2 linked regions of the Homo sapiens genome follow. The protein of the gene in region 1 interacts with the protein of each later gene in a biochemical or structural test. Each region holds a gene or a part of one and is shown in the gene's direction. Other genes may lie near its edges. The genes, in order: AHR and DAP3.

Region 1 (4,034 bases):
TAAAAAAAAAGGAAAACTCTGGTTTAAGCACTAAGGACTCAGCACCGTAGTAAATGGTGAGAGGCAAGAGAAGGAAAGTGGGTTTAATATGGTAAAGGCACAATCCCTTGCTCTTGTGGAGTCTACTTGGAGTGAAAATTTTATATGAAGAAAATTTTAGAGAACAGTGAAGGAAATACATAAAGAATACCATTAAGCTTAGAGAAGTCAAAGAGGCCTGGGGTGGTTAGGAAAAGCTGCATGGAAGAGATAAGAATCTAAAAACTAACAAATGAATATGGAACATAAACAGATTTTAATATGTTGCATTTAAGGAATGGGGATGTGACTTATTTGAGCAAGAGCATTCATGTTGGGAACTGATGACAAGTAACTTTTGGCTTATCTGTTGTAGTGCCAGTCTCTTTAGCTTTTTCTACCTTAGGTTCTATCTTAGGTGACTAGGGAATTTTAGGAATCATTCAATTCGTATTCATCACCACTAGCAAGCACCCACTAATCTAAATAGGCTTTAAAATTAATTTAGCCATATTTTTTAATCAGTCCTTTTGTTGTATTCCTTGTATCTTTTTTCTTTAGTCTGATGTCATACATCAGAGTGTATATGAACTTATCCATACCGAAGACCGAGCTGAATTTCAGCGTCAGCTACACTGGGCATTAAATCCTTCTCAGTGTACAGAGTCTGGACAAGGAATTGAAGGTAAGAATTGATGGTACAAAAAATAGTGTTGGTAGTTTTTAAATATGAGTCTGTGAAAGGAGGCTGGGAACCTGTAGGGTCATAGAACTCCATGATAGGGAAGTAGTGGAAAGATGTAAAGTCTGCAATCATAGGCCACAGCTAGGTCACAAAGAGCCTGATGAGCTAAGGAATATTTTGGCAAATGAGAGCCATTTAATGAGTTTCAGGCAACAGAGTATTGCCATAGTCAGTAATGTATTTTATAAAAATAAGTAGTACCTTCATGAAAGATGGAAGGAAGGTACAAGGTTGATACCTGAGTGCATGTAAATTATTGTGTTTAAAATGCACCAAAGAAAAAAGTAAGCTAGCATATGCAAGTATAAAAATGCTTTTCTCAATGCAAAAAATGTTTTTGGAAATTTGTTAAAGTGTTAAGAAAACAAAAATGCATTAGAAAATATGAAAATTGTTGACAGTGATAGCTCAATAAAAATTTAAAAAATTATGCAAGTTCTATCTGATAAAAGTGATATTTAATAAACTTTTAGTTTCTTGTCATTAGCTCTTTTGAAAATGATTTTTTTGTATTCAGAACACAGACTCCAGTTTAGAAACTAATACAAATTTTACCTATTCAAGTGCTTAATTTTACAGCAAAATGGAAAGTAAATTTTGTTTTGCCTTTATTTCTACAGAAGCCACTGGTCTCCCCCAGACAGTAGTCTGTTATAACCCAGACCAGATTCCTCCAGAAAACTCTCCTTTAATGGAGAGGTGCTTCATATGTCGTCTAAGGTGTCTGCTGGATAATTCATCTGGTTTTCTGGTAAGGTACAAAATTTTATGATACTGGCTTTTACTATTGTTACAATAAAAGCTTGAGGCAAATTTAATTTAGCAAAATATAATTCAGCAGAGAACTATTCCCAAATCAGGCAACCCTCAGAACCAGAGAGCTTCAGAGAGCTCACTTAAAAACATGGGCTGGAGCATTTATGAACAGAAAATGCAAGTGAGGTACAGAAATGGCTTGATTGATTACAGCTTGGGATTTGCCTTATTTGAAGATGATCTGATTAGTTGGCCACCTGTGACTGACTGAGACTCAGCTATTTGGTTACAAAAGTTTAATTCTACTGTTAGGCTTTCCGTTAGCTTATATAGTAAATGAAGTTGCAATTCCTTGGTAAGGACTTAAGGAGCAGAGGCATCTTCAGCCCAAATTTAGTTTAACATTAAGTTATAGAAAAAACAAGCCAATTTTCTTTGGTTATCTTTGATTTCAGCTTTAAAAATCTGCTACCAAATAATTTGATAAAGGAAAGTAACATTTTAAAGTAATTATTTCTGATTTTGACTATCTTCTATAACTCAGAAAACTGTTCTTTAGGATATAGTAACAAAAATTGAGTGAAATAACACGAAGCCTTGTATTTTGACTATTTTAGGATTTTTAAGGTATGAGAGAATTATGTAGCCCTTTTTTAATAGGAGGATGCTTACCATCTTGGGATTGAATGCCTGCTAGACAGAGAAATTATGGCCTTTCCATATGTCTCAAATAACTGCCACATAGAAAAACGATTGTATATTCATGATTGTGGAATCATCATTTGATAGGAGATGCTGTTTTCTTGTTACAAAGTCTGAACACCTGCATAGGAGTTGACTGTAGGGAACAGCTTAGGATTCCTCAGAGTGGACTTGTCTGTTATCTCATTGTATCCTTAGCTCATGTTACCAAGTACAGGAGAAGAAAATACAAAGTATATTGTATATTCTTTTTGTGAATAACAAGGAATTTGAAACAGATAATCAAATCTTAAATTAACATTACCAAGCAATGATTTTTGTTTATGTGTTTATTTCTGAAGAGGATTTTGCTGACCCAGAATTAGAATTATGCTTTGAGACAGTTTTCCCAGTGTTATTGCTCATGAACAATTAGTATGTAGAGTCATGTCCTGCATAATGATGCTTTGGTCAATAACAGACCATGTATATGATGGTAGTCCCATGAGATCATAATGGAGCCGAAAAATCCCTATCACTTAATGATGTCATAGCATTGCTCACATGTTGATGGTGATGCTGATGGAAGCAAACCTGTGTTGCCAGTCATATAAAAAGTATAGCACATACAATTATATATGATACATAATACTTGAAAATAAAACAATAATAAATCACTATGTATTTACTATTAATCATTATTTTACTTTATTTTTAAATGTATTATACTTTTAATTATTTTATTTTAATCATTATTTTAGAATAAGGTTAACTGTAAAACAGGCTCAGGCAGGTCCTTCAGGAAATATTCCAAAAGAAGGCATTGTTATCACAGGAGATGACAGCTCCATGCATGTTATTGCCCCCGCAGACCTTCCAGTGGGACAAGATGTAGAGGTGGAAGATAGGATCATTAATGATCCTCACCCTGTACAGACCTAAGCTAATGTGTGGGTTTGTGTCTTAGTTTTTAACAAAAAAAGTTTAAAAAGTAAAAAAATTAAAAATTAAAAAATAGAAGAAAGCTTATAGAATAAGGATATAAAGAAAGAAAATGTTTTTGTATGGCTGTACACTGTGTTTAAGTGTTATTACAGAAGAGTCAAAAGTTAAAAATGCAAAAGTTTATGAAGTAAAAATGTTACAGTAAACTGTGCTGGGATTACAGGCATAAGCCACTGCACCTGGCCAAAAGGAAAATATTTTTTATAAATTCAGCGTAGCCTAAGTGTATAGTGTTTATAAACTCTATAGTAGTGTACGGTAATGTCTCAGGCCTTCACATTCACTCACCACTCACTCACTGACTAAACCAAAGCAACTTTCAGTCCTGCCTACCTTGTTTACAATAAGTGCTCTTATACAGGTATACCATTTTTTGTCTTTTATACTGTATTTTTACTGTATATTTTCTATGTTTAGATACACAAATACTTACCATCATGTTACAATTGCTTTAAGTATTCAGTACGATAGCATGCTGTACAGGTTTGTAGCCTAGGAACAAAAGGCTATACTGTATAGCTTAGATGCGTAGTAAGCTATACCATCTAGGTTTGTGAACCTACCCTCTGATGTTCACAGGATAATGAAATTGCCTAAGGACACATTTCACAGAACATGCCCCTTTTGTTAAATGACATGTGAGTGTATGTCTGAGGTGGAATATCTGTGTGCAGGAGGGCCTTTTCCTCCTTGTGCTGCTATTATTTTGATGTCAGAACCATCCCTTGGACTGGTTGATATTGTTTTAAGCAATTAAATATATCATGTTCATGTTTAAGTGCCTTTGTTTTCCCTGTCTTCTAAATTTCTTCCATATCTTTACTCAGTA
Region 2 (3,540 bases), on another chromosome or scaffold:
ACTCCTAACCTCAGGTGATCCACCTGTCTTGGCCTCCCAAAGTGCTGGGATTACAGGGATGAGCCACCACGCCCAGCCAACATTTGTTTTAATACCTTTATCATGTTTTTTTGAACATTGAGCCTTCCATTAAGTTTGGAATTGCCTGTCAAATCCTACACCAATTCAATTGTTTTGTTAGGATTTCTTTTAAAAATATCAACACTGGCTGGGTACAATGGCTCACGCCTGTAATTCCAGCACTTTGGGAAGCTGAGGTGGGCAGATTACTTAAGGCCAGGAGTTCAAGATGAGCCTGGCCAACATGGTGAAACTCCATCTCTACTAAAAATACAAAAATTAGCTGGGCGTGGTGGCACACGCCTGTAGTCACAGCTACTTGTGAGGCTGAAGCAGGAGAATCGCTTGAACCCGGGAGGCGGAGGTTGCAGTGAGCTGAGATCGTGTCACTGCACTCCAGCCTGTGCGACAGAGCGAGACTCTGTCTCAAAAAAAAAAAAAAAAAATTAACACTATTTTAGTTATACTTACAAACAGTATTTGTTAGATATTCTTATTAGTAGACATATTTTAATATTTTCTTTGCAAATCAGTTTCACACACATTAGTACTTCCCAAATTTCCCACCAAAGTATTCTGGTAGCAAAAGGGGAATTAAACTCTGAAAGGTTAGTATGCTGGAGGTATGAGGTATGGATGGCCTTAGAGTTGTGAGGCAGCTGGTCACACCTGCTCCTGAGCCGCCATGTATTTAGTTCTAGAGAAAAAAGTCTAAATGGTTAAAGTAATAAAAATAAATTTTAGGCCAGGTGCGGTGGCTCACGCCTATAATCCCAGCACCTTGGGAGGCTGAGACGGGTGGATCATGAGGTCAGGAGTTCGAGACCAGCCTGACCAACATGGTGAAAGCCTGTCTCTACTAAAATTACAAAAATCAGCCTGGCATGGTGGTGGCACCTGTAATCCCAGCTACTGAGGAGACTGAGGCAGAAGAATTGCTTGAACCCCGGAGGCGGAGGTTGCAGTGAGCCGAGATCACACCACTGCACTCTAGCCTGGGTGACAGAGTGAGACTCTGTCTCAAAAAAAGAAAAAAAAAAAAAATCAACTAAAAATAAATTTTAGGCCAGGTGCAGTGGCTCACGCCTGTAATCCCTGCACTTTGGGAGGCCAAGACGGGGGTGTCACCTGAGGTCGGGAGTTTGAGACCAGCCTGACCAACATGGAGAAACTCCTTCTGTACTAAAAATACAAAATAGCCGGGCATGGTGGTGGGTGCCTGTAATCCCAGCTACTCGGGAGGCTGAGGCAGGAGAATCACTTGAACTGGGAGGCAGAGGTTGTGGTGAGCCGAGATCGTGCCATTGCACTCCAGCCTGGGCAACAAGAGTGAAACTCCGTCTCAAAAAAAAAAAAAGAAAAAAAATTTAAAGAGTTAATGTTTATTGAATTATTAACTTGTGTCAGAAATTTTAAGCATTTTTCTATATGCTTTCCATATTTACAGTGGCCCTAAGTGGTATACATAATTTTGTTATGAGATATATCAATTATTTATAGATTTCAGCTGAGATAGAATATATGCTTCAGTAATAGGAATAATCAAAAGCTGACTATCATGTTACTTAGTGCGGAATAATGTATTTCAGTTTTTAGCTAAGTTATATGGATAGATTTTCAAACTCAGTACCAACCCAGCTTCTCCTAACTGAGTAAATTAGAGGCATGCAATCTGATGGTCTTGGTTGCCACTTTAGGCAGAGTATATATACCACCCCCCACCCACTCCTTCCACACCCACCCACTCTTTCCTTCTTTCCTACTTTATCAGGTGAAGACATTCAGTGAAGCTTGCCTGATGGTAAGGAAACCAGCCCTAGAACTTCTGCATTACCTGAAAAACACCAGTTTTGCTTATCCAGCTATACGATATCTTCTGTGTATCCTTTCCTGCCTGCGTGGACCCTCATGAACCAATGCTTTCTCCCCTCAAATAAGGCAACAGAAGAAATGAAAAAAAGTACTGTTGAGGCCGGGCATGGTAGCTCACACCTATAATCCCAGGAGTTTGGGAAGCCGAGGCAGGCGTATCGCCTGAAGTCAGGAGTTCAAGACCTGCCTGGCCAACATGGCGAAACCCCGCATTTACTAAAAATGCAATATATTAGCCGGGTGTGGTAGCGTGCACCTGTAATCCCAGCTACTTGGGAAGCTGAGGCAGGAGAATCGCTTGAACCCGGGAAGCGGAGGTTGCTGTGAGCTGATATCAAGCCACTGCACTCCAACCCCATCTCAAAAAAACAAAACAAAGCATAACTACTGTTCACATACAAGTGATCCTTCCAGTCATGTTTTCTTTAACAACATATACTTTAGATGGAGAGAAGGGAACAGGAAAAACCCTAAGTCTTTGCCATGTTATTCATTTCTGTGCAAAACAGGACTGGCTGATACTACATATTCCAGATGGTAAGAACTTCCTGTTGTTTCTTCTGTCTGTTAGGTTTAGTTATCCTGTTACTGTGGTAGCCTTGCAGCTTTAATTTTCTTTTCTTTTCTTTTCTTTTTTTTTTTTTTTTTGAGATGGAGTTTCGCTCTTGTCGGCCAGTCTGGAGTGCAGAGGCGCAATCTCAGGTCACCGCAACCTCCGCCTCCCAGGCTCAAGAGATTCTCCTGCCTCAGCCTCCCAAGTAGCTGGGATTACAGGCGCCCACCACACCACCACGCCCAGCTAATTTTTTTTTTTTTTTTTTTTTGAGACGGAGTCTTGCTCTGTCGCCCAGGCTGGAGTGCAGTGGCACGATCTCAGCTCACTGCAAGCTCCGCCTCCCGGGTTCACACCATTCTTCTGCCTCAGCCTCCTGAGTAGCTGGGACTACAGGCGCCCGCCACCATGCCCGGCTAATTTTTTTTGTATTTTTAGTAGAGACAGGGTTTCACCATGTTGGCCAGGCTGGTCTCGAACTCCTGACTTCAGGTGATCCACCTGCCTTGGCCTCCCAAAGTGCTGGGATTACAGGCATGAGCCATTGCACCCGGCCTCAGCTTTACTTTCCTAACAGGGATCTGATAGCTAAAGGAAAAGCCTTTGCCAGTCACGATGGCTCAAACCTATAATCCCAGCACTTTGGGAGGCTGAGGCTGGAATATTGCTTAGAGCCCAGGAGGAGGCTGCAGTGAGCTGTGATCGCACCACTACACTCTAGCGTGGGCAACAAAGCAAGACCCTGTCTCAAAAAAAAAAAAAAAAAAGAAGAAGAAGAAAAGCCTTTACTCCAGATGTAGAGCAGACTGAGCTCATCCATCATGATTTCTTCGTGATATTACTGCCAAGCAGATTATAAGGTGAAGTCAATGTGACAAAAGGAAATTCGGCTAAAAGCTTCCTGAAGCCTTTTGATGCTAAGCAGTCCTTCTTTTGATATTTAATACCCATGGACATAAACTTCTGCCTTAGAGGTCGCCATGGAGTTTTGTTTTGTTTTGTTTTGTTTTGTTTTTGCCATCTGTTAACAGTCCTGAGTACCCATAGAGCCTTTT

Evidence for each region.
Region 2: the proteins of AHR (region 1) and DAP3 form a complex in vitro, tested with the Homo sapiens proteins (one study listed by BioGRID).

Annotation. Positions count from the first base shown.
Region 1 is NC_000007.14:17,329,373-17,333,406, forward strand, and holds part of AHR (aryl hydrocarbon receptor), read left to right. Parts: intron 1-579; coding exon 580-703; intron 704-1,383; coding exon 1,384-1,514; intron 1,515-4,034. UniProt on the Homo sapiens protein: Ligand-activated transcription factor that enables cells to adapt to changing conditions by sensing compounds from the environment, diet, microbiome and cellular metabolism, and which plays important roles in development, immunity and cancer.
Region 2 is NC_000001.11:155,723,551-155,727,090, forward strand, and holds part of DAP3 (small ribosomal subunit protein mS29), read left to right. Parts: intron 1-1,831; coding exon 1,832-1,940; intron 1,941-2,376; coding exon 2,377-2,469; intron 2,470-3,540. UniProt on the Homo sapiens protein: As a component of the mitochondrial small ribosomal subunit, it plays a role in the translation of mitochondrial mRNAs. Involved in mediating interferon-gamma-induced cell death. Displays GTPase activity in vitro.